2 separate regions of the Homo sapiens genome follow, and region 2 is linked to region 1. The links come from fine-mapping of genetic effects on gene expression. A gene starts in region 1. The other region holds a variant in brackets. All regions are shown on one strand. Distances are between the middles of the regions. Region 1 holds the start of LINC02839 (long intergenic non-protein coding RNA 2839). Region 2 has its middle 120 kb from the start of LINC02839.

The links.
Region 2: its variant is fine-mapped to the expression of LINC02839 in testis (GTEx, PIP above 0.99).

The regions. Positions count from the first base shown.
Region 1 is chr8:82,150,787-82,167,484 of GRCh38, forward strand. LINC02839 (long intergenic non-protein coding RNA 2839) reads right to left here and starts at 9,727. Exons shown (of 3, transcript NR_183481.1): 1 at 9,631-9,727; 2 at 972-1,076. LOC105375930 (a long non-coding RNA gene) reads left to right here and starts at 9,983. Exons shown (of 4, transcript XR_929113.2): 1 at 9,983-10,307; 2 at 11,151-11,211.
Region 2 is chr8:82,036,801-82,053,498 of GRCh38, forward strand. No RefSeq gene overlaps it. Among named protein-coding and RNA genes, the nearest start is that of LINC02839, 120 kb to the right of the region's middle. The variant C/T (reference allele first, on the strand shown) is at 8,839.

The DNA.
Region 1 (16,698 bases):
TCATTTTAAACCTATCAGCTTAGCAAAATTTTAAGTCGGCTAATTCCAAGTATTGGTCAGGATGTAAGCTAATGCTCCTATCTGTACTTGCCGTGGCATTACCTTGTATAGCTAAGCAATTTCCTTCTAAAATAACACTTCTACTCCTTTGATATGTCCTAGAGAAAGTCATTGTAACATGTGAATGAAAATATATGTATAAAAATATTAATAGCAACATTTTCCAGGACAGGATAAAACTAGACACAACCAAAAAGTCCAAAGTCAGCTGGATAAATTGTGTTATATTTGTAAGATAGAATACAAAACAGTTGTGAGAATGAATAAGTTAGTATTTCACACAATCACAAGGGTGAATTTCACAAACACAATGAAAACAGTAAGTTGCAAGAAAAACCATTTAATAGTATTCAGTTTCAATACAATTAAAATAATACTAATCATAAATATTATCTTGCAAAACATAATTATGTGTAAAGGAATGATAAAATAAAAAATTCAAGATAACATTTACTTCTGGGTTGAATGTAGGCTATGCCGTCCAGGATAAGTGCATAGAGAACTTCAAGGTTTGAGTACTCATGAATATTTTAAAGCTGAGAAGGGAGTACATTAATATTCACTTTTTATTATTATTTAATATGAATAAAATAATAACAAAAGAATAAGAAAAATGAACGCAGTAAATCTGCAAATACTGATATGTAAGGATTTAGTTTCAAAAGCAAATAACCAACTGAGAAAATATGGAATATACAAATGACATATTTGTCATGTTCATATAAATTGTTTTAGGGAATGTGACACAAAACCTTGGGATGCAGATTTTTGGTACTATTGGAATACAGAACTGGAGCTCTCTGGGAGGAAAATCATGAAATAGATAAAATAATACTAAAATTGCTTTTAGTGTAATTTTATGGTCAGGTACATATATTTTTGAATTCATTTAAAATAATAATGGTAGTTACCTGGATGATGGAATAATGAGCCATTTTATGATGTCTTTAGGTAGAGTTGAATTTTTAAAATCTTCTGAAATTGTGATTTAAAATGGTTTTCTCTAGGTAGTTCAACTGGAGAGAGTAAAAGGACTTAATTTTACATTTATACCCTTTAGGTTTTCTTTTAGTTTATTACTTTTTGCAGGAATTCCTGTTAAAAGAAAACAAATAATAGGCACTCATGCTGAGAGAAACCTGTCCTGTTGTTAATAAAATCTTTTACACTTGAGAGAAGTAAAATACCTGAACTTTCAAAAACTAAAGAAGATTTTATTCCCCAAAAGCCACGGATCCAGAGCAAAGAAAAACTATTATAGAATAAATTTGGCTGGCCACAGGCAAACAAATTGATTACATGCTTATTGGTGAACAAGTTAAAGCAATTTTTTTTTTTTTTTTTTTTGAGATAGATTCTGGGTCTGTCACTGGGCTAGAGTGCAGTGGTGCCATCTCTTCTCACTGTAACCTTCACTTCCTGGGTTCAAGTGATTTTCCTGCCTCAGCTTCCTGGGTAGCTGGGACTACAGGTGCGTGCCATCAAGCCCAGCTAATTTTTGTATTTTTAGTAGAGACTGGGTTTCACCATGTTGACCAGGATGGTCTTGATCTCTTGACCTTGTGATCTGCCCTCCTCAGTCTCCCAAAGTGCCGGGATTACAGGCATCAGCCACCGTGTCCAGCTAAAGCTATTTTCTAAATAAGATTTGGTAAATGATTGTTAGAAAAATTTAACATTAAGAAAAGTGGTTTTATGGTGAAATTCTTTAACAGACTTAATTTTTCAGATTAGTTTTATGTTTATAGCAGAATAGTGCACAGTACAGAATTTCTCATATACTCTTTGCCTTCACAGAGGCATAGCCTCCCTCATTATCAATATCTCCACCAGAGTGGTACATTTGTTACAATTTATGAACCTACATTGACACATAATTACCACCCAGATTCCAAGACCATAGTTTGCATTAGGGGGTCACTCTTGGTATTGTACATTCTATGGATCTGGACCAAAGTATAAGACAAGTATCTACCAGTATAGTATTATACAGGGTATTTCCATTGCCCTAAAAATCCTCTGTGTTCTGCCTATTCATCTGTCTTCCCCTCTAAGTCCTAACAGCTACTGATATATTTTTAGACATTTTTGCCTTTTCCAAAATGTGATATACTTGAAACCATATAGTAAGTAGCCTTTACAGACTAGTTTCTTTCAATTAGTAACATGAATTTAGGTTTCCTCCATACCTTTTCATGGCTTGATAGTTAATTTTTTTTTCTAGTGCTGAATAATAGTCCATTATCTGAATATACCTTAGTTTATCCATTCACTTACTGAAGAACATCTTGGTTCCTATCAAATCTTAGCAATTATGAATAAAGCTGTTATACAAATCCATATGCAGGCTTTTGTGTGTACATATATATTCATTTTGGGAGAAAAAAACAAGGAACGTGATTTCTGAATTGTATAATAACAGTGTGTTTGTTTATTTTATTTATTTATTTATTTTTTGAGAAATTGCCAAACTGTTTTCTGAAGTGGCTTTACCATTTTGCATTCCCACCAGCAATGAATGGTAGTTCCTATTGCTCCCCATCCTTCTCAGCATTTGATATTGTCAGTATGCTGAATTTTGGCCATTCTAAGAGATGTGTAGTGTTATCTCATTGTTGCTGTAATTTGTATTTGTATTTCTCTCGTGACATATGAAGTAGAACATCTTTTCATATTTATTTGCCATCTATATATCTTCTTTGATGAAGTGTCTGTTAAGGTCTTTGGCTCAATTTTAAAACTGCTTGTTTGTTATCTTATTGCTGAATTATAAGAATTTGTTTTGTATTTTAATAGCAATTCTTTATATGACGTCTTTTGCAAATATTTTCTTCCAATCTGTGATTTGTCTTTTCATTCTCTTGACAGTGTCTTTCATAGAGTTTATTAATTCTTTCTTTCATGGATTGTGCCTTCGATGTTATTATTTCTAAAAGTCATTGCTAAGTACAATGTCATCTATAGTTTTCCTGTGCTATTTTTCTAGGAGTTTTATGGTTTTGTGTTTCACATTTAGGTCTGGGATCTATATTGAATTAATTTTAAGGAAGTGTTTAAAATCTGGGCCTAGATTTATTTTTTGAATATGATGTCCAGTTATTTCAGCACTATTTGTTGAAAAACTATCTTTTTTTCTATTGTATTGCCTTTCCTTCTCTGTCTCTAAGATTGGTTGACTTTATTTATGTGGATCTGTCACCGGGCTCTCTCTATTCTGTTCCATTGATCTGTTTATTTTTTCACTAATGCCACATTGTCTTTTTAATTTAATTTATTTATTTATTTATTTTTTGAGATGGAGTCTCGCTCATCGCCCAGGCTGGAGTGCAGTGGCATGATCTTGGCTCACTGCAAGCTCCACCTCCCGGGTTCACACCATTGTCCTGCCTCAGCCTCCCAAGTAGCTGGGACTACAGGCGCCCACCACCATGCCCGGCTAAGTTTTTGTATATTTAGTAGAGACGGGGTTTCACCATGTTAGCCAAGATGGTCTCGATCTCCTGACCTCATGATCTGCCCACCTCGGCCTCCCAAAGTGCTGGGATTACAGGCGTGAGCCACTGCGCCCGGCCCACACTGTCTTTATTATTGTTGCTTCATAGTAAGTTTTGAAGAAAGGTAATGTAAGTCTTCCAACTTTGTTCTTCAATACAGTGTTGGATATCCTGCCTCTTTTACTTCTCTATGTAAACTTCAGAATTAACTGGTCAATATCCACAAAGTAACTTGCTGAGGTTTGGACTGGAACTACATCAGATCTATAGATCAAGTTGGGAAAAACAAGCATCTTGACAATATTGATCTTTCCTGTTCATTAATATGGGACATCTCTCCATTTATTGAATTCTTCTTTGGTTTCTTTTATGAGAATTTTGTAGTTTTCCTTACACAGATCTTGTACATATTTTGTTAGATTTACACCTAAGTATTTATTTTTGGGGTGCTAATGCAAATAATATTGTGTTTGTAATTTCAAATTTTACTTGTTCATTGCTGGTATATAAGAAAGCATTTGACTTTTGTATATTAACCTTGTATTCTAAACAACTTGCTATAATTAAGCAATTAGTTCCTGGAGATTTTTTTTTGTCGATTCTTTTGGCTTTTCTACATAGATAATCATGTCACCTGTGAATAAAGACGGTTTCATTTTATACTTACCCATCTGTATACCTTTTGTTTATTTTTTTGTCTTATTTTATTAGCTAGAATTGTCAGTGATGCTGAAGAGCAGTGGTGACAGGGGACTTTCTTGCCTTTATTTTAGTAGGGAATCTTTGAGTTTCTCACCATTAAATATGATGTTAGTGTAGGTTTGTTGTAGATACTCTTTAAGGGAAGAAGCCTCCCTGTATTCCTAGTTTAGTGGGGAAGTGGTTTTAAAAAAAATCAAAGTCAAATGATTCTACTTCCAGAGGAAAATCTCCTTGACCACTTGGCCCAATGCATATTATCTTATGAAAATGCAAGGGCACAGAGCCTGAAAAGGCTGGAGTAGCACCTGGAAAATATCTCTAATCTTCCTCATCAAAATTCCAGAGGTTTTGTCCTTCTTTCCTTCACTAAGTCATAGTTATACATCCCATTACTTATTTCAGTAAAATGCCCCATTTTTTCCGATAAATAACATTTTTTTATTTCATTTAGAAACAGGTGATCTCTCTCTTTTAGTCAAAAGAAACATGCCCAATTCTCAAAGCAGTATCATATTCTTTCAGAAATAGCTTTGTTGATGTATTATTCACATACTATCCAATTCACCCATTTAAATTGTACAATTCAGTGATTTTGAGTTTGTCACAGGGCTGTGTAAAAATTACCCCAATCTGATTTTAAAATATTTTTGTGTCCCCTAAAAGAAACTCCATTAGCACTCATTATTCCACACTTACTCAAGCCCTATGCAACTATTAATCTTTTACTTCTATATATTTGCATATTCTGACTGGATCTCTTTGCTTTTAATAGTTGTACATTGTTGCCATAACTTTATCACAAATTTAGTAGCTTAAAACAATTTTTATCTTACAGTTCTTTAGGTAACACATCTGAGATGGAGTCTCATTGGGAAAGATCAAGGGCTGTGTTCCTTTCTGTAGGCTTTAGGGGAGAAGAAGTTCCTTTCCATTTTCCAGCTTCTAGGGGATGTCCACACCTGCTGATGGTTCTCTTACTCCATCTTTGAAGCCAGTCTTGGCAGATCAAGTTCTTTTTACATTGCATCCCTATGACTTTTCTTCCATCATCACACTGATGTCTAAATGATTTCAACTCAAGAAATGGTCTCTACATTTCAAGATTCATCTTAGATCTGAGTAATCCAGGATAATCTTGTCTGAAGATTTTTTATTTTAATCACACTTGCAAAATCTCTTTATCCATGTAAAGTAAGGTATTCTCAGGTTCTAGGGATCAAGATGTGGACATTTTGGAAGGAGTATTATTCTGCTAGTTATATTTTTAAAAACCTTTTCAATTTTATACACATTGATTTTTGCAATTAATTCTTAAATTAGTCAAGGGGACAAAGGTGAAGAAATATGCAGTTATAGTGTCCTTTATAATTACTTACATAATTACCTTTACTGATACTCTTTTTCTTAATACATCTAGATCTGAATTACTATCTGTTGCTGAGTGCTTTCAGCCTGAGGAACTACATTTAGTATTTCCTGTAAGGAAGGTCTGTTAGCAACCAATTCTCTCAGTTGTTGATTATTTGGGAATATCTTTTTCTCACCTTCATTTTTGAAAGATATTTTGCTGAATGTAAGATTCTTGACAGCCATTTTTTTTCTGCACTTTGAATATGTCATCCAACTGCCTTTGGTATCTATTGTTTTTGATAAGAAGTCCAAAGTTAATCTTACTACAGTTCCCTTGTACATAAGTAATTTTTCTCTTGCGGCTTCCAAGATTTTCTCTTTCTCTTTGTCTTTCAACATTTCAATTATAAGGTGTCTCTCTCTAGATTTCTTTGAATTTATCCTACTTGAAGTTCATTGAGTTTCTTTAATGTGTACTATAATATTTCCAATAATTTGGAAAGTTTTCAGCCATTATTTCTTCAAATTTTTTTTCCTGTTGTTTTGTATTCCCATTACTACATTGGTGTATTTAATAGTGTTCCTTATTTCTCTCAGAGTGTGTTCATTTTTCTTTATTTTCTTCTCTTTCCTTCAGATTTCATCATCTCCATGTATCTCTCTTCAAATTTATTTATGCTTCCTTCCACCAGTTCACATCTGCTTTTCAGCCCCGCTAGTGAAGTTTTCATTTCACTTGTACTTTTCAACTCCAGAATTTTCTTTTATTTTCAATAATTTATATCTCTTCATTAGCATTCTGTATTTGATAACGTGTTGTCTTTAAATATCTTTTAAATTCTTTAAACATGGTTTCCTTTAGTTCTTTGGACATATTTATGATAGACAATTTGAAATTTTTGTCTCCTAAGCCTACCACCTAATTTTCTGTAAAGGCAATTTTTAATGCCTGCTGCTTTTCCCCCAAGTGGGATGGGTCATATTTTCCTATTTCCTTGCATATTTCCTAATGTTTTGTTGATAACTATACATTTTAGATAATATATTGGTATAACATTGTATACTGACTTTCTTAGGAGTGTTGTTTTTGTTTTTTGCATAGTCATTTATCTAGGGACTTATTTTAATAAATTCTGTAAAGCCTTTTTCCTCTGCCATGTACAGCCTCTGATGTATCTGCTAGAATTGTTAATTTTTTCCTTTTTGCTTATCTTTTATCCTGGCTCTCTGGGAGAAGCCTCTGGTTTGACAGCCTGTTTATTGATTAAAATTGTGTTTACGACCCCCAGTTGGTTAGAATTTTACCTATTACTCTTTTAAATACATGTGTAGCATAAAGTCTATTATATCAGTTCAGATATTTTATTTTATTTCATTTTATTTTGTCCTGTCTTCAGCTTGGAGGTTTTTCTCCCTGATTTCTTCTGGGAAGCATAGTCTTCCAGACTCTCAGATGACTGTGATATTATTTTAAATCTTGACTTCCCAGGTATATTTCCTAGATCAGAGAAGATCTTTGTTCACTCGGTATCTGGTCAGAAGTTATGTTTAAGCACTGTCATTTTTTTTTTAATTTTTAAAAATCCAAATTTAGGTAAGGAGAGACTTTTTTGACGGATTATTGCAAAGGGGAAGAAGGGACTATTGCAATACAGAGAATAAAACAACCATAGCAAACATCTTAAGGATTATGTGAAAAGAGTTATTCTTTTGTAGAGAGGAGTAAACAAGGCTAGAAAGAACAGGATGTTCAGATGTAAGAAGAAAGGGAGGCATGATGGGATAACAGATCAGAGAATGTTTTATCCTGATGTCAGTTTATTTTCAAGAGGAGAAATTTAGGAAAGGTTGCATGCCGGCTGAGGCTGAGAGTAAAATTCAGAGATCTGTAGGAAGGAGAGAAATCTAAAGTTTGCTTACAAGTATTTGGTTCTGATTGATTATGGGGACAAACAGTTCAGCAAATATATATGAGGCAAAGAATAAGAATTTAGAATGTTTGTATCTGGTCTTGTAGGTACACAAGAGGGCCATCCGTGAGTCCTATCTAAGTCACATGAGAAAGGGTACTTCTTTGCAGCAAGCCATTTCCAGAACATAAAGTGTGATGAATTTCTTTAACTACCCTCCTTTTGGTATTTATTGCTGTTTTCTAGGATCAGAAGAGCCTGGTATAATTTAACCTTGTTAGTTCCTGGTGCCATTTAGACTTCCATCCTATGCTGATGGGTCTATCTGTGGTTTGGGAAATGTTTTTAAGCCTGACTCACATTCTGTTCTGCTTGCTTCCTGAGTGGATGCAGCATAGTGCAAGGAGAAAGCCTTTCCACCCTTAGAGCTGATGATAATCACAGAGCAACCCTTCTTGGCTATCTCTTTTCTTGGTTCTTTTTATTGAACTTCTGGTTTCTCTGCAACTTTACTTGTTTCAGAGTTACTGCCTCCTTGTAATTGCTTTCCACAAAGATAGCTATTGTTTCTGGCAACACTCCCATGCATAGAGATCTCCATCCACTGTTACAAATAAAGCCAGTCCCCTCAGGCAGAGCTGAAGAACTCCTCATCCTTATTACCTGCCTTTCTACCTGGGCAGAACCATTGTGCGACTGCACCACAGTTGGGGGCAGAAATCTGTTTCTCCCAGAGTGACATCCCTAGTCTACTTACTAGTTGGCACTAGAGTGTGTAAGGGGCAGCTCTTGATTGTCTTAGCTTGCCCTGCTTGGTACAGAACCTCCATGCTACCAGTGTGCTGGGCCCCAGTATCATCCGCCTTCTTTACTTGAAATAGGACTTCCACACTATGAGCGGGGGTGAAATAGGGGAAGAAAGTCCCAGGTCTTCTTCACCACATACCTTCCTAGAATAGAGCTTGTGGAGGTAGGAGGAGAAATGCTAGCAGCCTGCTCTTCCTGAGACAGAGAGATCCCTGTCTTCTTGACTGCACGTGCCTGGGGTAGAGCTCTTGTAATGTGAAGTTGGGAAACGGAGGTTGGTAATTAAAGAATCTTGGCTAGAATTCCACAGACTCTACTTGTTCTTAAAAAAATTAAATAGTTTTTCTTGAATGAATTTTTATGCATTTTTTTCTGGTGTTTCTAGGACAATTTCCAGATGTTACATTATTTTTTAATAATTTTCATCTCGAATTGCTATTTTTTCTGGAGAGAGAGAATCTGCCAAGATCCTTTTTCATTTTTTTAGAATTATCCCAGCAGCTTATTCTTACTCTAGTTTCCTCTACTTTTTCCTTCCTTTAGCTTCTCTATTTTTATTTAAGTATTTATTTAAATAGTCCCTACTTTTTCCCCTTTCAAACTCTTCCCAAATTATTTAGAGGTCTGACAACTGCACTTTGCAAGGTCTGAACACAGCTTACCCTCAACTTTTGTATGTTAACTATTGTTGGTGATTTATAGGCCATTGGGCTTCTAACTTTTCAGGATTCCACATGAAAATACAGTACCCTTATCTGCAGGGAATATGTTCCTAGACCCCTGTTGGATGCTTGAAACCACAACTAGTACTGAATCTTATATATATTATGTTTTTTTCTATGCATTATATACTTGTGATAGAGTTTACTTTATAAATTAGACACAGTAAGAGATTAGCAACAATAACAAATAATAAAATAGAATAATTATAACAATATGCAGCATCACTACTCTTGTGCTTTGAGGCTACTATAAAGTAAAATAAGGGTTATTTGAACACAAGCTCTGCAATACCACTACAGTTGATCTGATAACCTAAACTGCTACTAAGTGACTAATAGGTGGGTAGTGTAGACAGTGAGGATATGCTGGGTAAAGGGAAGACTCATGTCCCAGGCAGGACAGAGTGGTGATAGCGACAGGAGACAGAAAAATTCCTAGGCAGACAGAAAATTCCTAGGCAGACAGAGACAGGTCTCAGATGAAATCTGACCTTCAAGCCAAGAAGAGCTTATAGCCTGAAAACCCGAGCTGACAGTTCCGAATAAAATTCATGACCACAGTAAGAACTTATATCCCCTTCTTACCCCCTCTCTCTTTATTGGTTCCTTCTGAATGATGCTTTTCAACCAACCAAACCCGAGCTGACAGTTCCGAATAAAATTCATGACCAGAGTAAGAACTTGTATCCCCTTCTTACCCCCTCTCTCTTTATTGGTTCCTTCTGAATGATGCTTTTCAACCAATCAAATGGTGCTTGTTCCAAGACCACCCATGGACCAATCAGCATGCACTTCCCCATTCTAAGTGTGTAAGAACCCTAGACTCAACCTCATAGATGGCTATTCATTTTCACATCCCCTCACAGTGCTGAGAACTTTCTTTGTGTTGCTCAGTAAAATTCTACTCTGCCTTACTCATTCTCTGGTATCCACATACCTTATTCCTTCTGGTTACAGGACAGGAACCTGGAACTCCCCGAAATTGCGGGAGCAAAAGAGGTGTAGTGCTCCTGCTTGCTGAGCAGCGGGTGGTGGGAGTTAAAAGAGCTGTAACACTCCCTCCAACTCCCCAAACAACGGTAGAGAAGAAGCCGTTGGGTGCTACTTCCTCCTGCTCACCGAACTACGGGAGTGAAAAAGCCTTAACAATGGGATAGTGTGAGATTTCATTGCATTACACAGAACAGCACACAATTTAAAAGTTATGAATTGTTTATTTATGCAACTTTTCATTTAATATTTTCAATTATGGTTGACCATGGGTAAGTGAAACCTCAGAAAATGTGAGTGCGGAGGACTGCTGTATTTATCTTTAGCCCTAAATAGAATCATTTGTTATCTGTAATCTCAAATTTTCATTGTTTTAAATACATTTTATTCGTGTGTGTGTGTGTGTGTGTGTGTGTGTTTCACTCATATGCCTGCCTCAATGTATTCTAGTTAAAATGTAAGTTCCTAGGTTACAGAAGCCAGACCTACACATTTCTCTTGGTTCAATGGCTTGCACACCGTCATGAAGTAAAATCAGTGCTAAATGCCTGATTTAGGTGATGACAATGTTTAAGCTAAAATGGAGCATGAGGTAGTAGAATCTTTACAAGAATCTTTAACACCAAGTCACAAGACTCGACCTCAAGAAGAAATAGGTCCAGTATAATAGTCAACCTCCTGATAAAAAATGAAGAGTTCACTCGTTTCCGATTATTCCTTTAACATAGATTTATGGAAGAAACGTTTCCCATGGGAGTGATCATTGTTTCACCTTCCTCACAATATTGTAGTGATTTTTCAAATGATATAATAATGATTGTAAAAGTATTCTAAAAAAATTATTAAAATGTATAAATATAAGGTCATGTTATTCATCACAATTATTTTAAACAGTATATAGTTCTTATGACAACAACTAAAATCAGCATTTGTCTGGTGCACTCAGTTCACTATTTTTACACACAACTTGAGATTACAAAGAAAGTCAAACTATTAGAACCTATATACAAAACAAAACTCTCAATATGTGAAACATTACAGGCATGCTGTGAAACTTCTCTGTCCTTTATAGATGAGATACTATTTTGCTAAGAAAATTTATGATTATATTTTAGAAAGGACACTGGACTGATAGACAGCTCCAAGTCAGACCTTTAACATTCTTCATAGCCTTGGGTAAGTCATTTTAGCCTCACTTTCTCTGAGTGCAAATAGTACCTGTTTAGTCTAATTTGCAGGGCGCTTTGAAGGATCAAATGAAATTCGTGTGAAAAGATATTAAAGTTAAAAAATATTATATCCTAAATCTTTGGTGTTAGTCACTAACAGAATATATTCAGTTGAGTTATAAAGTTCTCAGAGAAAAGCTTCAAACTAAATATAAACTGTATTAGAAGTCTAGAAAAGTATTCCCTTGTTCCTGAAAGGATAAACTCTTGGTTTCTGGGTAATAATAAGTAGAAAAGTTAACATCTATTGGAAGATGGTTCTCATAGAAAAATTGCAGGCATGAAAAAAGGAGCCAGAGGCAAAGCACTTAGAGATAGAGGCATTACCGTGTTGCTTTGGGAGCACATTCAGTCCATAGTGGAGCAGGATTTTGGCAGAGGATAAGGAGAAGAGATTACTTTGTATACATTTTCCTGCTGGATATGTGACATTTTGGTTCATTATTCACCCACTTGGTTAGTTTGATTACTACAGTGGCCTGAGAATCTCTGGAGAAAAAAAAGGGAAAATAGATGAGCCAAAGATATTTGATATATTAGAATACAATTAATAGCAGCAGAAAGTAGTCTGCTGTTAGGGGATGTGGAAGAATAAATGGTTAACACATGCCCTGACAAGTTCTGCTGCTGCTGGAAGAATTCCATGCTGGCATTATCAGAAATGCAGAGTCATTGACTTCCAGGAGTAATAGATTTTTGCACCATTTTTTTTTTCAAAGAAGAGTTAGATAACTAGGAGGACTGATACAAGTTGTTAATATAGTAATTATAATAGTCATTAAGTAATAGTAGTTTAGAACTTCACATGTAGTTTCACTTAATTGTTATGACAGTCCAGCAAGGTATTCGTCTCCATCTTAGAGCTGAAAGAGTTTAAGTACCTTGAGTACAGTAATAGGTAGTGGGTTAGGATTCAGACCTAAAAGGTTCCATTGAAGTGTAGGGGCAGCATATGGTGATTCGACATGCAATTCTAATTTTTGGTTGTTATGTTCTTTGCCTACTTCTTTGATTTCCAAATGCTAATTGTTAGACCCATGTTTCTTCATGTCAAAATTTTCACTGGTTTACTGAGTATCTTTAGGAAGAATTCATGACTATATGCTGGAAAAATCTGCATGGCAAAATTAAGAGCTGGAACATGCATATCTGTTCTTCCTTGTGCCAGTCTAAATTTCTGATTCATAAAATTTGGACATCTTTACACCCTATTGCCGATATGAGTAAATGGATAAACAACTATTAAATGATTATATCGTTTCATCTCTGAAAAAATATTAGTTAGATCTAGGGGCCAGGTTTTTCTTTTTTATCTAAATGTTTAAGTCATTTATAATCTTAAAATGTGCTAAAACAATAAATATGTCAAAAAATATGAATGAGGACAGTTTAGCATTAAGCTTCACTTTGAAATTGTTGATATTTCAAGCATCTGCTATACAGTACAACTCTCATTAATTACGAAGACCAGAATCCACCTGCCACATGCAGATATCCCTTGAGGAAGCTTGCCTACTCTTCCTTTTTGTCTGAGCACAACACAGTAGTTTTTAAGATTCTTTCCATGAATTCTTCTTGTGTTCTTTCACTGGGGCCCGCTTCCAATTTGTGGCTGAAAATATTAGAGTGGTTGCTAAGAAACGCTGAAGTTGGAAATTTATGAGTTTTCAGAAGGTTGCATTGAAGTGTAGGGGTAGCATATGGTGATTTGACATGTTTTGTTCCCTAGCCAAGGAGAGGGGTAGCTGTCTCTGATCTCTGTAATTATTTCCCAGCACTTTAAGATGCCAAGCTGAATTTAAAAAACAGCAAGGCATCAGGGCTAAGGAAAAATAGAATGTACTTTTTGTTTCCAATATGTAGGACCCAAGTATTTGTTGTTCATTTTTTGAAAAAATTAATTGGAATAGTTTTGAAGCTCTAAAAGCAGATAAGTTTTACCTAAAATAAAGACATAAAGCCTCATTTATTTAGCTGAAATAGAAAGGAAGAAAGAATACATATTAATGTGGAAAAAAGGCAGCACTGAAATGAAGGTATTTAATAAGAAAGAGTTATAAAAGAAAATTTTAACATATAAAAATTTATTTAATAACTATTTATTGGAAGAGAATTCAATTTTTCTACAACTCAAGAGTATTTGTGAAAATTAGGAGACAGAGTAAGGAAGACAGATACAAATAAGGAATCAATAAATGAGTAAGGAATTGAAACCCTCATACTGCATAGGTTTTAATTTGTATTATGACATCCACGTGGTCTCAGGGGAAACATCACGAAAATTTTGGATGAATGAATGGAATCATTCATTCGCTTTATCATTCTAAAAATGTTCACCAAGGGCCAACTCATGGTTTCTGGGGCCATGTTAGGAACTAGGGATACAAAGAAGAGAGAGACATGGACTTTGCCCACATAAAATCTATAGTTTGTGAGACACAGGCAAATAAACCAATATGGAACCACATGTGGGAAAGTATAATGATACAGATATGCCAGAGGGCTTTGTGAACACAGAGGGGCACTTAACATAATCATGAAAAAGTAGGAAGATTTCAGGGCAAGATAATTGCTGTAAGAATTCTAAAACATCAGTGGTTTAAAATGGTAGAACTTTTTCTTGCTCATGCATTTCTATATATTTGATGTGTTTGGCAGGGCCCCTTTCACTTGCTGTTTCAGAGACTTACATCCTATGGCTCTAGAATCTCCTAGGGCCTGCTGGATTCTGCATCAAACAGGCTGGGAGCAAAAGGGAGTAGAAGTCTTCTTTATGGGCCAGGTCTGAAAGTGGTACACAGTTTACTGGCCACAACTTAAGTTACAGGGCCACATTTAACCTCAAGAAAAACAATGAACTAACTAGGAGGAATGAAAAACAAGTTTGTTGATTCACTAGCCTGGTTATGACATAGCTCTCTGCAGAAAACATAATCTCAGCTGTGCCTGAAAGATGTAAGCCTGGTAGCCAGGTAAAGAAGATGGGAGAAGGACATTCCAAAATGAAGGAATATCAAGATAAAATATATAAGTATAAACAAAAACTTATGAGGCCAGGTGTGGTGGCTCAAGCCTGTAGTCCTAGCACTTTGTGAGGCTGAGGCGGGTGGATCACTTGAGGTCAGGAGTTCGAGACCAGCCTGGCCAATATGGTGAAACCTCATCTCTACTAAAAATACAAAAAATAGCTGGGCGTGGTGGCAGGCACCTGTAACCCAGCTCCTTGTGAGGCTGAGGCAGGAGAATCACTTGAACTCGGGAGGTGGAGGTTGCAGTGAGCTGATATCATGCTATTGCATTCCAGCCTGGGTGACAAGAGTGAAACTCTGTCTCAAAAACAAAACAAAACAAACAACAACAACAAAAAACTTATGAGACATTTTAAAGACCAGTGTTGTCGGGGAATAAATTGCATGTCAGGATTCATGAGATTTGAAGTTTCACTTCTGATGATTTTTCCTCAGCTACACTTTCCAGTATATCCAGTTGCTTATTTGACATTTCTTAGGGTGACTGAAAGACACATCACATTCAACCCGTGGAAAATCAATTGCAGGATCTTCTACTCTGCTTCCTGGCCCTTGCCCTAGATCCTCTTTAAACTTAATCTACCTTCATCTCATCACACAAATAAAAAATTTGTAAATGATTCTTGACATCTCCTCTCCCTCATCCTATAAAACGAATCTATCACCAAGTTCTACATATGCTAAGTCCAAATCGTTTCTTGAATATGTTCATTTCTCTCCATTACCACTCTACTCCAAACTAACAGCATCTCTTGCCAGATCTATCACAACATGTGCCTAAGTTAATTCCATCCTTGCTATTTATTTTTGCCCCCTTTTAGGCTCTTATTCACAGTGATCCACTTGAAATCAAACCTGTTACCTCCACGATCATCTGCATTTATTGTATAATCACAGTAGTCAGCATTACTCTACATATAGTACATTGATTGTCTCATTCAGTCCCCATAGGTGCCTATAACATTGGTCCCATTCCCATTTCATTTCATCAATAGAAACTTAGGCTTAGAAGGCTTAGGGAGCATATTCAAGCTTACTCAGCTATTAATCAGATTAACTCTTTACAAAATGTAGACTGTATGTCTCCTGAGCCTATGTTCTAAATCACTCTGCTATATTTTCTCCCTCTGTAGGCATTTAAAATATTTATTGAATGAATTAATAAATGAAGAAAAAGTGGCATATTAGTCAGTGTCATGTAAAATAGAGGGTCATGTGAACGTAGCTCATCTTGTCCATGTGGTGAAAAAGAACCACTAAAATATTTTCAGAAAGCAGGGACAGAGTCAAATCTGGAGATTAAAGATGTCTTCACTACATGCACAAGAGATGGAAGGGAAGAGGAAAAATTTTAAAGCAGAGAATATTTCCACTGGACTATAAAATAAAATAAATTGTGAAGGGGGGGATAAGATTATGTCAGAAAGAGATTGAGGTTCTTTAAAGTTCTTGGGGGCATTTGGGTACACTTTCTTTTTCTCCTTCATAGCCTCATTTCCTTGCTCTGTATATCACCTGGTCCAGATTTTATAATGGTGAATAAGACATTATATGTAGATTGACTGCCTAAATAATGTTATTCAAGAACAGTAAATTTGTTTCATTACCTTCTTGACAGTCAATCCCATGGTGATCAGGATATGAGAGAGAAATGAATGTAAAGTTAATACAGTCGAGTTTAAAAGGATAAATATAGTCACAAAAAATATTAATAGAAAGATAAAGTAGCCAAGCTGGGGGAACCTTACTTTTGTGATTGCAGAACACAGAAAAGTTAGTAAACATGTTTTAATTTTGGCTAAGTTTTACTTATTCTACTGAGTCAGAAACAATGGTTCTAAATAATCTCAAACAAACTCTAAAATGTGGTTAAATATAAGCTTACATGCAAAAGAGAATAGAATGACATGCAGTTTTAACCATTTTTATAAATGATAAGTAAATACAGCACATAAAATTTATGTGTGTATGTATGTAAGAATAATTAAAATATAATTCTTAAACTATCTCTCTTGAAATATTTATTTACTCTGACATCTATGTATGTGACTGAATTTATCAGATAGAGTTAAATAACACATGATAAAATATGTTTGGCAAAATTTCTAGTTTCTGCTTTTAATGTCATAAATCTATTTAGGTAAAGGGTTTGATATAAGATTAAAATAGAAAACCTAATATATAGTAATAATACGCAGTGAATATATCAGAAAATGTAATCACAAAAATACTAAATATACAGTCTTTGCAAAATGTTATCCAGTTTTCTGAGCATATGGGTCTTGTATTGTCTGAAAATGTAGAGTCCCTCTATGCCTTATTTGACTTTCAGTGCAAGGAATTATAAAAGCTAGAGGTATAGATGAATTATTTGTAGGAGAGAATCTAGAGAGTGACACAGAAGG
Region 2 (16,698 bases), 110 kb before region 1:
ATCTGAGGGGAAAACACTGAAAGAGCAGAGAAAATTGTGAGCCACTCCATAATTTTAACATTAGGAGTAGGAGATGCATCTAGCAAAGGGAGATCCAGAAGGAGTAGTTAGATTGAACCAAGCAAAAAATCAGGTAATTCAGTGTCAAAGAAGCTAAGTGCAAGAAATATTTTAAGAAGGAGCAAATGACCAACTTTGTCAAATGTCTTAGTAAAATAAAGACAAAAAACTGAGTGCTGAGTTTGGTAATTTGGAATTATTAAGTGGCCTTGATGGGAGTTGTTTTAGGGAGGTTGCCAGGGTTATTGTGAAACTTATTAATATATGAAGTTAGGCATTCTAATTTTAATTACTTTTCCCTTCCTCAGTTTCTTCATGTGTAAAATGGTGATACTAATGCTTTTACGCCTGTGTCACACTTTTTGTGCTCATATCACTAGATTTTTAAAAGGAATAAATGGCAATCCATGAGAAAAATGAAACTATGCAGAGTGACATAAATGTATGCTTAATATATATGTATATTTTTTATATAATTGCAGGTAAGCATGTTTTAAGAAAATTCACATTCAGCATATGTCTCTGATGAATGGATGTTCATTCCTTTAAAAACAAGTTTCATAAATAAAAATTGTCTCTGAAATCATAGATATTTAAATAGTTGGACTTGTCTTTAAATATATATGGAGATATGCAAAAAATACACATTGTTTTAAAAACAGATATTGAAATATAATTTTCCAAGGTGACCTAAACTTAACGTAATCCTAACTCTAACCCAGGTGACATATATAAACATTTTAAAGGTGCTCAAAAGTTTATTTTTGGTGATCATCTTTCATTAAAAAAAACTAACCATTTCTACCAACATCACCATCCTTACAACCACATTTAAAATCACAGCAAAAATAGCTACCACTTTTAGTGCATATTACATATCAGATACTTTATATGTATAATCTCACTTAATCTTTACAGCTATAATATAGGCATAATTATGATTTCCACTTTACAGATAAAAATTGAGGCTCAGAGAAGTTAAGCAATTTGTTCAAAACCTGCAGATAGTGTCAGAGTTATTTTTAAAATCAATTATTTCTTAATCCATCGTTCTCACTCAATGCAATTGTTTCTCATCATATTTGGGTGTGTTGACAGGTTAGATATGGAAAGATAAAGGTTCTGGAGTAGCTATGTAGTTAAAATTTCTAGACTTGAGACCAAAGCCAAGTTTTACTTATTCTAGAAAACACACATACACACACATGAAAAAAGCCAGAAGGTAGGCTAGAACATCAGGCCAAGGAGAGAAAGGACTTGAGATATAGCAAAAGCATTTGCAAATGTGGAACTCTATTCAAGACTGAATGTATATATTGCAAAAGGGACAGGGCAGAAAGCCAGGCAATAGGTAAATAAAACATAATATATCTTGGTTGTCAGTTCACTAGGCTGGAGAGAATTCTAGGAGTCATGGTTGGGAATGCTGAAGTTTAAAGATATGATATCCATCCTTTGGAGAGGCTCATGAAACAGAAAACCAATATGTATGTGTTTTAAGGGTACCCAGGGTTTGCTTTAATCAGGTAAGGTAAGATATGCATTATTACTGCACTAAGTAATCACCTTGCAGCACTGGACCAGATCATTCTGAAGTTGCTAAAGGGTATGTCTGTGGGTGGTATAGAGAAATAGGACTAGATGATTTCTAAGGTTTCCTACTGCCTGTGTTGCTTAGTATAGTCTAATGGGGTCTTTAGAAGAGCGTGATATAAAACTTTTTCTGGCAGTGTGTGCAGGATGCACTGCTGAGAGGGAGCTCACCCAGGAGAGTGCTGTAATTGAAGCAATTGGCATAGCGAAGAATTGAACTAATAGTCAGCAAACCTGCATTCTAGCTTTCCCTATCCCACTCTGTTGCTGGGTAACATTGAGTGACTTCCTGGACCAATGATTAAAAAGAATTCCAAAGAGTTTAGAGATTCAAAGCTTGGAAGAAGAGCCAACAGTGATGGAATGAAATAGTAATGGAAAATCATGTGGTAAAATACATTGTTAATTAGGTATATAGAAAGTATACAATAAATATATATTCCTTTGTATATAATTCCATTGGATGGTAGGTTTTCTAAGGAAAGTAGGTTGTAGTCAACCTGAAGATAATATGGATATTCTTATTAAACTTAAACAGAGATTTCCATTAATTACCTCTCCTTTTCTCCTGTTCCTATAATGCTAGTTAGCTGCCACAGGGTCTCTGGTAAATAACCTAGTAAGTGTTTCTTAATTGCCTTTTATTTTGCCCTAAATGTTTTCCCTGTCTTACAAAAATAGACTATATGTGTCTCAGGTTAAAAACCTATGTCTAGATCTCTTACAGCATCTAGAAGTATGGATACTTTCAAAATATTAAGAGACTATGAATTTGTTGCTTGGAATAATTTTAGAAAGCTTCTACTTTTTGTCCTCTAGTGATGAAGAAATCTGTGGGAGGATGAGGTGCTCATCCAAGGTCAAAGGCAAGGTAGTGCTGGTGCCATGACTCAGCCTAGTGCCTGGTTCTCAACCATGTCTCTTGATTGATAGGTTTAGTATTGAGTGCTTGTTTAAGCTTTCTTATGAGCTGACTGATTTTTAAAAGAAAAACTAAATTCATTTAAATGTTTTACAAATTCTAATTGCCCACGATTATATAAAATTTCTTGGATGATATAATTTTTGACTAGGCCTTTATTCTGTCATTTGTCATTGATATAGATGACAGGAACAGAATATGTATCAAAATGTCAAGTGTACTAGGATGATGACATTTTATGTAAGCGCATAATTAAATCACGTTTTGGAAGAACTGATAATCCTTATTTCCAAAGGAAATGAATTATGCTTCAGAACAATTTTTTGAGGTGTCTTCAGTTGGCATTCCATAGCTCGGTACCAACCAGCTTTATATGTTACCCCAGAGCTGCCAAAGAAGAAAAGATGATGCTTTCTGTGCCAACGTGGGGAAGACTATGTAAAAATGTACCAATATCTAAACCCTTCCCCAAGGCACAGTGGAAGATGCACATTTTATTTCTAACAGCATGTCCTGGGGCCAAAAACTAACTGCTTACCTTCACTACAAACATTGACAGAGGTATGATCCAATACGGGATTAACTGAAAAATATTTGCTTACTAGGAAGTGATATCACTCATAGGGCTGCAAGTGATACTAATAAAAAATGATTTTGCAGCACTAATGTTTGGTAACATCTGTGTTTTTATGACAATTGTTTGTGACTGTCAAATTGCCAAACTCTTTACTCAATCCCTCATCAAAAGGGGAGAAGTATGGTGATAATTTTTAAAAACTTAAGTATATCCTGATTGTACTTTATGGTTTGCTGAGCATAATCCTATAGGGTAGAGAATGTTAACAATAAAAACAAAAATGTGTTGTAAAAGAACTTTAACTTCCCTTTTTATGTGTATATGTATGTGTGTGTTTGTGTATATGTACATAAATCAGCTGGAAGACAAAAGTAAAAAATCATGCTTCAGGATTATTTTAATGATTAGATCCTGAAAAAATTATTTTAAATTTATCATTTATAATTTGATTGTGCATTCTTTATATTTTCTACTGTGGCATGTGTTGTATGTTTATGTAGCTTTAAATTTTATATTACACTAATGATGATTGTAATGGTTTCTTAAGTGGAACTTGAAAATTATTTAAATATGCCAAATATTATTTCCTCCCAGATCTTGCATTTTCAGTGACAAATGAAGACAAATGAGGCACTGCTATGGGTATAGTTATTTAAATATTATATTTTTCTTATGGGTAAGTTGCATCACTTAAGACATCTTTAATTAATTATTTAAGTGAGTTCTGTGTCTTCTCCTCTGCATCCAAAATTGCAGATATAAAATGTCAGAGAAACTTTCTTGCAAGGGAAGAATAATTTTCCAGCTTAACAGTAAGCTGTTTTGATATATACTCATTGATGAACAAGAAAAAAGTATTAAAAGAAGGAGATGTGAATAGGTAATAGAGATAATTTGTTGTTAGTATGTTTCCTAGCTGTGATCCAAGAGTGGTAATCTAAGACTCTCTTTCTGATTAGTTTAAGCAGCCAATTCAGGGATGATAGACAATCAGTGTTGAGAGAAAGGAAAAAAAAAGTCTGTCTATCTATCTATCTATCTATCTATCTATCTATCTAATCTCTCTCACTCTCTCTCATCTCTCTCATCTACCGTATCTATCATCAATATAATCTAACATCTATCTCATGGATCTGCCAGGGTCTTGTCGAGAAAACAAAAACTACATTTAGAATTTCAAATACAGATGACCTAATTTATGGAATTGTGTACAAATATATTATAGGGCTCAAAGAGTATAGAGAGAAAGCTGTGGTATCCCATAAATTTGTAACTGTAGGAAGGAACAACTACCCTTAGAAAAGAGGGTATGCTACGAGAAACTGGGAGATTGAAAGAATGGTCCCTGCAGGGCTGATGCTCGGGCCTCTGAGGTGGAAGTGTGGCCTCGTGCATGCTTGCAGCTCCCAGGGACGCAGGCAAGTGGCTGGTGCTCTGGCTCCAAAAGAGTGAGGCCTGGGGTCTTGGGTACCCCCGAGGGATGTGAGGAAGCAGAGCGATGTTTCTATTGCAGAAGAAGCTTGAAGCTGGAGGCCACTATTATGCTGCTGCTAGAATAATGCTAGCAGCAACTAGAAAACATGAAAATAGTCCCTCATACCTTTATTTTTCTTTCCAATCTCCTTCAAATAAAAAATAAAACCTAAATGAAAGCCAGAATGCAAGGGCATATGGAAAATGTAATGTATAGAAAACTAGTCCTGGCCTCACAGAGCCAGGTACAGAAAGGGGTGCTTGCAGCAGAGAGACAACAGCCAGCTCATCTTATTCTTTACTGCCTTCATAGCTCAGATTTGTTTTCCTGGCAGCCTTCACTTAGATGTCTACCAGGTGTCTCAAATATCAAAATGTTGCAAAACCAAAGAGATTTTTGTTTTTCACCCCCAAATATGCTTTTCTCATGTCAGTAAATGGTGCTATAATCCATCCACCTATTTGGTGCAAAATCTAGTCGTCATTTTTGACACCTCTCATTCTCTTGCATTCCAAATTTAATCCACTAGGGAGTGCTATCAGCTCTACCTCTAGAAGAGACCCTGACTCTATTATAGATACTTCCTGACATCTCCACAGCTGTGATCTGAGCCCATCACCATCCTTTCTCATGGAATATTTATTTAGTCTCCTAACTAGGCTCCTTGCCTTCATCCATGTAATGTTTTACTACTTTCCTTTTCACGCACTGTGACTCAGTTGCCCTGGAATAGGACAAACTCCTTTCCTCCTCAAAGCCTTCTTTCTGCCTTGAAATCTATTCTTCTGCATATTTGCATGGCTATGTCCTCCAAATTAATGCTGCAGCTTTAATTTCAGCACCTAAGGGAGACCTTCCCCCACCATGTTTTTGCACCTTGCTTCTCTTGAGCCACTGTTGCCTTCTAATATATTCTTAGTCTTTTTGGTTTTCTTTATGATACTTGCCTTTACCTATAACCATCTTTATAATTGCATATTCATATTCTTAATCTCTCTTAGAATAGCAACATCATAGAGCTTAAAGAACACCCACAAGGTATATTTATTGACAGAAAAATATCTGTGAAAGGGACATAAAGCCACAGGTTCCTGAAGCCAAGGTAACTCTGTTAAAATGTAGGAGAGCACTTATACAAAGGTAGGATTCATGGTGAATAAAAAGGGAATACTTTTATCAATAAATTGTTAAAAAAATAAGTCAATAAAAATATTTGTAATAAGTTTATATAGAAAACTGGTTAAGCATTAATCTATGGATCATATATTTTAGATTTTAATTTTCATATATTTTTCAAGTGTTCCCAGGCATTCAGACTATAGGTGTGAGTTTTAGGTTTTGGAGAAGTATTTTCAGACACAACTAAACCACTTGAGAGAAGAAAGCATAAATATAAACCAAAGAGCTGTCAGCTCTGTCACATCTCTTTTATTAGTGAGACATTTATGTCAGGACTAACTCCTGTTGCGGAAACAAATGTGGACTAAGTAAGGAATGAGAGTTAATGGAAAGCAACAGAAATTATATGAGAGATAGGGAGAAGCAGAATTCTTAATCAGCCAAAATTTTCACAGACCAAGTTGTCAGTGGTTTCTCAAAACTAGTTCTTTTCTTCTGGATATTGACATTCCAGAAGGATGCAATAGGTGGGACAGAAAATAATACAGCTTTGTAAGATGATGAAGCTTTTCAAATCTAGGAAAATTCATCTAAGATGATATGGTAGGAGAAATGAAATTTACAGCAAATTGGCTTCAGCCACTAGTAGAGACACAGAGCATTAGCGGTTCAAGCCTCTGAGGGTCAAAAAAAAAAAAAAAAAAAAAAAGAAGCCTTGAAAATCTAGGAAGCACAGAAAGTAGGAAGAAAGTAGGAATCATGTAATTGATGCCTTCCCCATACAAATGGGTTTAGATATTTAGAGGAATAGTATCTTGGAGACACAAAGATTTTCCCCAAACTTGCCATTTGTTGATGCAAGGCTGTATTAGTACGTTTTCACACTGCTGATAAAGACATACCTGAGACTGGGTAATTTATAAAGAAAAAGAGGTTTAATGGATTCGCAGTTCCACGTGTCTGGGGAGGCCTCACAATCATGGCAGAAGGCGAAAGGCACTTCTTACATGGTGGCAGACAAGAGAGAATGAGAGCCAAGTGAAAAGGGTTTCTCCTTATAAAACTATCAGATCTTATGAGACTTACTCACTACCAGGAGAACAGTATAGGGGAAACCGACCCCATGATTAAATCATCTCCCACCGGTATCTCCCACAACGCATAGGAATTATGGGAGCTACAATTCAAGATGAGATTTGGGTGGGGACACAGCCAAACAATATCAAAGGCTTTGGTAAGTTGTCTTAGTGGCATCTCTTTGATTTTGGCTAAGAAACAAATGCATAGAGTCAAAGCACAGGTTACAGGGACTCTAGCAGTCCCTACTTGAGGTTGCTATGTTTCATTTGCCCTGTGCAGGTTTTAAAATCCTGAATTATCATTGTCTCTACCACTCTATGTGAAGGACTCAAGGACACTTTTAGTTCTTACAATTACACTGTAATGTTTGAAGTGTGGTTCACTTTGTTACAGTGGATATGGAGCAGATGGAGAGATAAAAGATATGCAAACATACAGAGAAACATGTATTTACTTATGAACAATAGTAATTTGAAATTAACATTGTTCACTTACCCAAGACTTACTCTTCAAATCTTTAAGCACTACTCTATTCTACATGACAGCCCAGTGAAACGAGGCTTGAGTTCACAAACATGGAATTATTACCTAATATTTTAATATTTTTTGAATGCTTAATAAATTTACAGGTACCATGGGGAATTCTCTAAATAAGTAGCAGGATATAGGTGTTTAATTTTTTTCTCCCCATCTTTTTTTTGATTGCATTAAAATAATATGACTTCTTCACCTCACTATCTAGTTGGATTTGAAGATTAAGCCAAAGGAAATTTATTTTCCTTCATTTACATCCTCAATTTTTAAAAGCCACTAATCACTATCATTAAAGGATATAAGAAGAGAAAAGGGTTTGCTTAGATATTAGAAAAGAGAAGAGGTTTTCTGAAGAGACAGAAGATAGTACATTTCTTTGGCAGAAGAAAATATTTTCTCACATATACCTAGAGAAGGAAACAGAGCTACCATTTGACCCAGCAATCCTCATCCCTGGATATGTAGCCAAAGGAAAATAAATTATTTTACTAAAAAGACACATGCACTCATCTGTTCATCACAGCACTATTTGCTATGCCCAATAGCAAAGACATAGAATTAACTCAGGTGCCCATCAATGATAGATTGACTAAAGAAAATGTGATATGTATATGCCATTGAATACTATACAGCCATAAAAGAGAATGAAATCATGTTCTTGGCTGCAACATGGATGCAGTTGAAGGCCATAATCCTAAGTGAATTAATGCAGGAGGAACAGAAAACCAAATAACTTTTGTTCTCACTTATAAGTGGGAACTAAACAATGAACTCACATGGACATGAACATGGGAACAACAGTACACATGGACACTGTGGACTGCTAAAAGGGAGAAGGAGGGAGGGGGGCATGGCTTGTAAAACTACCTACTGGGTACTATGCTCACTACTTGGGTGATGGGACCTATACCCCAAACCTCAGCATCACACAGTATTCCCATGTAATAAACTTGCACATGTACCACCTGTATCTGAAATAAACCCTGAAATTAAAAAGAAATAAAAAAAGAAGACTTGAGGATAAGAAGAAATAAAAAGGACAGATAAAAAAGATGATTTTCAGAAAGAGCATATTCTCTAATAGCTGATCTCAGGAAAGTTTCCCAGGAAGGAAAGGCTGGTGTCTGGGAAGAGCCAAACGTGAGGACTTGCAAATGATCAATGTAGAGTCATTGTTGGGTTTCCTGGCTCCACACAGGAACTGAGACATTGCAAACTGCCCCACCTTCAGTTGAGCACACACTTTGCATGGACTGCATCCACCTAGAATCTGTCCTAGCAGTTCCTCCTGTCAGTGTCTTTAAGGACCTCACTTCTTCATCCTTCAGGGTCCTATGGGGTTTTTGCCCAGTAGGAAACATACCTGACCTTGCCCAAAGACTTGCTTTGCTCCTGTTTGAGTATTTATTCTTGCCCTCCCTGACTCTGCCTGGTGCAAATCCCCATGACATTTGTAAGTAAAAAATGTTAGGATTCAAA[C/T]CTGTGCTCCCTAGCTATATCTCTCTACTTGGGACACTTAAATAGAATCACCTTGAGACTTTCTCTGGTGGGATCAATGTTAAATATCACAATTGTATTACCTCATTTAATATTAATAACTTAACAAGGGTAAGTTTGGTTGTTAGTAGCTATATACCCATTTGGTAGGCACATTTTATATAAAAAGGAAGCTTTCAGACGTCGCACAGCTTGCAGACAATGAAGCCACAGGAGGTATCCTGTTTGTTCCACTCCAAAGCCAAATTCTTCATCCCATCTCTTCCAACCCCTTCCTTTCTCTCCCGTCCCTTCCCTTCCCTCCCCTCACCTCCCTTCACTTTTCTGTTTTCTTTTTTAATCGCCCCTCCCCCATCTCCCCTTCAGTTTTCTTTCCTTTCCTTTTCTATTTTCCTTCCTTTCTTCTCTCCCATTTCTTTCTTCTTTTTTCTTTCCCTTTTCTCTTTACTTTCCCTTTTTTCTTTCTTTCTTTCCTTTCCTTTTTCTTTTCTTTCCTTACTTTTTTTCTTTCATTTCCTATCCTTTTCTTTGCCTCTTTTCCTTTTTATTTTTTGCCACTCTCTTCCTGCTTCTACAAGCGAAGTAACTTAGTATGTAGTATCTTAACATTTTAACAAAGGCCCTTTCCATTGCATTGTTGTCTGAGTTGTCTGAGTTGTCTCAGGTGGCTAATGATAGGAATGACCCCATTTCAAGAAGTAATTCAACCCTTATATCCGTGAATTGGCCTTCTTTCTAGAAAAGAATATAAACATCTTAAATATTTAATACGTATGATTCCATACAAGAGTCATGTAATGCATTTCTGGGAGTATGATTTATTCATAACAGGCCAGCCTGTTTAAGACTGGGTGCCTACTGTAAACAGCTGCTGAAGGAAGAGATGGGGGAGGTGAGACAGAAAGAACTCACAGGCTTACAGATTCAAAAGAATGAGAAAGGTCTTAAATGGCCGATTTGCCTCCGTCTTATATGGACTTTATAACTCTCCATCCTGACAATTAGAGACCTAATCTAATTTAACCAAATTTAAATGTTCCTTATTAAAATGTTTTATGTCATTTATTTAGACTCTATTTCAGTCCTTTTGAAGTCAAGTTTGGATGTATAGTTTATAAAAAGCATGGAACTCAATATATTTTGAGATTTTGTTATTACAGTTATATATAATCATAATATATGGCTAAGAGTATTTTTTATGCATGTCTGATGTCTGTCTTTCAATTACGTATGAGTTGAGCAATATTGAAAACAAGAGAGCCATCAATACCCAAATATTCATTTAAATATGTGTATCTTAGCTCAGTGGAAATACACCAGTAAGAGATAAATTGAAAATGGTGTTTCCTCAAAAGATTGTTAGCATTGCAAGTGAAGGCTTTATTTACTGTTGCCTATATGGTTTTTGAACTTGAATGTTAAATATGGTATGTAACTAGATTAAAATAGAGCTGGATCCAATAGCATGTATGTGAATTTGAGGGAACTTACCCCACAAATGACATGTTTTTGGTCTAAAGCAGTGAAGGGGAGCTCTAGATCTTAGTAAACAGTTGAAGTATGTCCTTGTAAGTGATCGTGCGGGTGATCAAATGAAGTCTCACAATTTATCAATGAACAAAGTACTTAGTCTTGCTTTTCATGTATGTCATAATTCACATTTATAGGTTGCATCTAGAATATTTATTTTTCTATTCAATATTTTCTTGTTAATTACTGTTGATTTCCTTTTAAGTCAGCAGAAGATAAAAAAATCTATTTTTTGACTTGTAAACTTGTTCATCTAATACTTTATTTACATGAATTATTTCTGATATATTCTATAGGAATAGTTGATAATATTAGCAATAACTCACATTCCTACAGAAAAAAAATTTGGTTTTTCTTGTCAATGAAAAATTCAGGGTTTTGTTTCTCAATGTAAAACTGTCACTATTTCTGAAGTAGTAGAGTTTTGCTGAAGAAATTGCTTCTTAATCAAGAAGGTGCAATCTGGACCCTCCTTGAAGCAATAGAAAAGGACAAGTAAAACATAATTGAATAGAATAGCAAGAGCAACACATTTACAAAGGATTTTATCCACAAGTCAGATTAAATCATAATCAGCTCCACTGTTTAAATGGGACCATGGTTTTATGCAAACTTGGAAATTACTCAGGAAAGGATAAATAGAATGGAGGTTCCTCTTATCTGACCCACTGACAGTTTTCATGTTTATTCTTACATTCTTTATACTTGCACGATCTAACACATTTATTCTTCCCACTGGAGTCACTCTGATATATATTATACATTAATATGCACATTTGAATGAGGTGTCAGGTTCCAGGTTATAATAAAAGCTACTTGTAAAGGATTTTCTCCTGATTTCAAATCTTTAAAACAGCCACAACAGATTAAATTATTTTTAAGGAAGATAAGTTGTGCTTTATTACTTCTTCTTAAATGTTCAAAAATTGCTTTATTAGTTATTCTATAGTATATTCCTAGTGAATACGTTCATATTAGACCAAGAGGAATGAAACACGTCACTGAGAAGGCCCTCTAATGAGCCATATAGAACTGAAATAACTACATATGCATTCCACAAATGGACCATTAATTGAAAAAAGAACCAAAGTGTGAAGATATAATCCTATAGGGTGGAACTTAAAATGGTGATATATTTTAAGGCTTTAGAACTTTCAATTCACTTGTGTGGAAGAAAAGGTGAATGTGAAACATAATTTGTTTTTTCCTCTATCTAAGGTAAAGCATTTCCATTAAACTGCTGTGGTAACTTAACATTGAGAAAGCAATAATTTTTGAAAACTTTGTCAATTTAGCAAGAATTCTTCTCTTGATTTAATACTTCTTTTTTGCTTTTTTTTTTTTTTTTTTGAGACGGAGTCTCACTCTGTCGCCCAGGCTGGAGTGCAGTGGCGCGATCTCGGTTCACCGCAAGCTCTGCCTCCCGGGTTCACGCCATTCTCCTGCCTCAGCCTCCCGAGAAGCTGAGACTACAGGCGCCCGCCCCCATGCCTGGCTAATTTTTTGTATTTTTAGTAGAGACGGGGTTTCATCGTGTTAGCCAGGATGGTCTCCATCTCCTGACTTAGTGATCCGCCCGCCTTGGCCTCCCAAAGTGCTGGGATTACAGGCGTGAGCCACCGCGCCCGGCCTTTTTTGCTTATTTAAGTACATGTATTCATCACACTGGTGGCTCTTTTCTTGGGTTGCTGGTACTGCAGGGACTGATTAAGATGGAAAGTCCCTACTTTAGGATAAACAAGTACATCTCAATACTGCTGTGCCCACAAACAAACGTGGTGAGAACTGGGGCCCTCTTTGGAGGAACATATACTTTATCTCCTGCACTGGAATCTTTTTGAGAGTAAAAGGGGGAGCTTTTAATAATTACAACTGGGCCACAGGCATAAACCTGGTCTGTTCTTGACACACTGGGATATATGGTCATCCAACTTATTTCAAAGCAGCAGATCATTCGGTGTCTCATGTTGAACCTCCGTCCACATTGATTGATCTGTTATTTTCTTGTACCTTACTTGCCTGAATCCCATCTTCCTTTGTTCTATTATATATCTACTCTTAGCTTAGGTTAGCACTTTTCTGACTCCAGTTCCCTCACTTTGTCTTTCTTTTTCTCTATGTGTATAAATTTATCATGTCATTTTAAAGAAGTGATTAACAAGCTGTTCTGTGGAGAGGTGTGATGTGAGGGCTGGTAAAAGAAGGACTGGAGGCAAAGCGTGGGTTTTCAAGCTCTGCCTTTGCTTCAACTACGGCAGCTCTGTTTTATTTATTTTATTTATTTGTATTTTTCCCAAGAAGCTTTTATCTTAGAACAGATTAGTTGGCTAAAATGTGTTCCAAATTTACTACATATTATCTTTAATAAGTCCATGAATTTGCTTCAGATGATTCATGAAACTGCTGAAATTTTGTGTGATAATTTGTTTCTTCATGTAGTTATATTTTTCTGAGGAGAAGATACACACACACATTTTTTATTTATTTAAAAAGTTTGTAAGTCATAATGAATTAATCACCGTCAGTCAATGGTTACATGTGACAGCTTGAATTTTCAAAAACAGATCTGATTTAGAAATGACATACAAGAACTTTGAGACTGTTTATAGCTGATAAATCATCCCCTAAGTTTCTATTGAAGCACTGAAAAAAGGATACTGAAATGAGGCAATAACTCATTATTGTTGGGGGAAAAAAGAGAAAAGAATGTTATTTGAATCCACATTTGGTTAGAGCCATTCCTGCCTTATTTGTGAGTTAGCATATTTGATACATGGGGAATTAAATATCTTTCTGCTCGATAGCTTTCTCTGAAGCTTGGCTAAATAGAAAAGTCATTGAATCAAACCAAGTTTAAACAGAAAACTTCTCCGTTTTCTTCAGTTGCGTAGCAAACATTTCCAAGACTCAGTGCCATAAAAATGATATTTATTATTTCTCATGATGCTGTAGGTTATTGCATGTTTTCTTTCTTCATGTCTTGCCATCTGGGGGTCACTCAGGTGCCTGTGTAAGGCCAGGAGCTTGGCCAGGGCACCTTGGTTCTCCATGTGGCATCTTGTCCTTCTGGGTCTTTCCACATACACTTTATCTGCAGGAAAAGAGCCTACAATTCTTTACAATACGGAGCCTGGCTTCCAAGGGAATAACCTCCAAATGCTTACCAATCCTCTGCTGACTTCATATCTGGTCATCCATGGCCAAGGCAAGCCCTCTGTCCAAGCCTAGAATTTATATGGGAGAGAACTACCCAAGGCATGAATGTGGGGAGACATGATTCAGTAGGAGCTACCAGTGTAATGTCCAGCACAGAAAGGAACTTGATAAAGTTGTTTGCACCAAGCAGGCTGGTATTTTATGGTTCTATTCAAAATATCTTCTGAAATGTCCAGAAAATCAAAATTAAGAAGAACATAGGCATAAATACTAAGGTAAAGGCAGAATTGAGTTACTTGAGAAACGTACATATAAGTGATAGATTAATATGAAAAATTGCTTTTATAAAAAATCTATCAAAATAGACAAAGCTTCATAATTAAAAATCAATTAAAATAGAGAAAACATGTACACAAAATAAGGAACAAAAGTGGGTCTTAGGGCTAGAAATAATTATGGTTAATTCTAGGCTTACTAATATGTACTTCTTAATTCTATTATGGGATTTGTAACCAAATATTATAAATAAACTAATTTGAAGTAAAAACACTGAAACGGATGGTGCAAAATTTTCATTATTTGTAGATAATGTGATTCTTTGTCCAGGTAAGTATAAATAACTCAAAGTGATTAGAATTAACAAGACATTGAATATTTATAAAATATATATGAAAAAAATAAAGAGCTATATTATTTATCAGCAATCATTCTTTATACAACAGTTTTCATTCACATTAGCAGCAAAATTTTAAACTATCCAGGAATAAAGTAACACATTGCCAGTTAATGGAAAGCTGTCAAAAACATTTTCTTGATGATCAGTGTATTAGTCTGTTCTCACACTGCTATAAAGATACTACCTGAGAATGGATAATTTATGAAGAAAAGAGGTTGAATTGACTCACAGATTCACATGGCTGGGGAGGCCTCAGGAAACTTACAATCATGGCGGAAGCTGAAGGAGAAGCAAGGCACATCTTTCATGGCAGCAGGAGAGAGAGAGAGACAGAGAGAGAGGGAGAGCGAAGGGGGAAGTACCACTTTTATACCATCAGATCTCATGGGAACTCACTCACTATCATGAGAACAACATGGGGGAACCGCCCACATGACTGAATCACTGCCCACCAGGTCGCTCTCTGGACACGTGGGGATTGCAATTTGACATGAGATTTGGGTGAGGACACAGCCAAACCATATTAATCAAGGACTAAAAAAATGAGCAAGAAGTGTTTAGGAGGTATATAAATAAAGCTAACACAGATAATTTGAGACATAACAAAAGGCTTGATTAAATAACACATAGGATTCCAGGATGGGTATGAATATTGTAAATATTTCAGTTTTATTCTATTAATTAAAAAATATGCTTCAATTTTATTACATACCTCCCAAGAACTTTTTGGAACTTCAAGTCATACAGAAGTTTAATGGAAGAACAAAAAAAAAGGTGAATGATATACATTTCTTTTTTATAAAAGAAGAGAAAGGCATGGGGGCACCACCAGCACTTAATATTAAAATAGTGCCAAGACTGGATGCAGTGGCTCCTGCTTGTAATCCCAGCACTTAGGGAGGCCAAGGCGGGTGGATCACTTGAGGTTATGAGTTTGTGACTCACTTAGCCAACATGCTGAATTCCCGTCTCTACTGAAAATACAAAAAGTAGCCAGTGTGGTAGCGGGTGCCTGTAGTTCCAGCTACTCTGAAGGCTGAGGCAGAAGAATCACTTGAACCCAGGAGGTGGAGATTGCAGTGATTTAAGATTGTGCCACTGCACTCCAGCCTAAGTGACAGAATGAGACTCTGTTTCAAAAATAAATAGAAATAAAATAGTACCATGATAATCAAAGCAGAATGCCACTATCACCAAATCCCAACAGTCAAATTAATGGGACTATATAAAAATGTCAGAAACAGGCTTCATTGCCATCAGAATTTGGTATATGATAAAGTTTCAAACCAGTAGTAAAATCACGGTTTAAATAGAAACGCTGCAAACATTATTACCTGATAATAAACTAGATCTTTATGTTAAATCATAACTTACAATAAGCCAAAACAATGGTAACTGGTACATTTGCCTACATAAAAATGCAAAACTTTTGCATCTCAACATATCATAAATGAAAGTTTAAAAGCTTAAGTTTCAGTTATACAAGATTAATAAGATTGAGAGATCTGTTATACAACATTATACCTATAGTTAACAATATTGTATTGTACACTTAAAAATAGTTGAAAGGGTATATCTCATATTAAATGTTCTTAATACAGTTTTTTCCCCAAACATAAAAGAGTGAATATTCTTTTTAAATAAAGAGGCCATACAGGAAATAATTTTAAAAAATTAATATAAAAACATAAATAGCAAAAGTAGTTAGGAAATAAACCAATAAAATAATACAAAATAAAAAAAAGAATGTGAGTTGATTATTCTCACAATTGAGTAAAGAAAATAAAAATACAAATACATATATTTTACATTTTGAAATGTGAAATCTTGAGGAAAAAATGATAGCCAGTGTTGGAAACAGTTAGGTAAATAAGACTTAAAAATTAAAGAGGGAACGGTGGCTCACACTGTAATCCCAGCTACTAAGAGGTTGATGTGGGAGAATTGCTTGAGGCTACCCCTGCACTCCAGCCAGGATGACAGAATGAGACTCTTTCTCTGAGAATAATTAATTAATTAATTAAATGGGAAGTAAAAGTGAGGCAACATATGTGTAGAACAATCTGTGAATATATAAAAATATTTTATATGATCATTTTTTTGACCTAGTAATTTTTCTTCCAGAATTTGCCCTAAGGAAATAACCATGAGTGTGAATTAGAGAATTAATACTTTATAGCAAACATAAAACAAAATAAAAGTAACCCATAGTTACAGCCACAAGATATTATTAAAAACCTTATATCTATATGATGGAAATACTTTTAGGCATTAATGACTCATGGCAAAAGGAAATATGTGCTTCGTAACATATAATAATACTCAGGGCACATTAATATGTGAATAAGTAGTGTATAAAATATTACGCATAGTATAATCCCAATGCAACAAATCTTCAAAGATATATACCACAATAGTAATACTAAATATTTCTTGTTTGTGGCATTATAAGTGAATTTCGTTTCTTTTTTTAGTGTGAT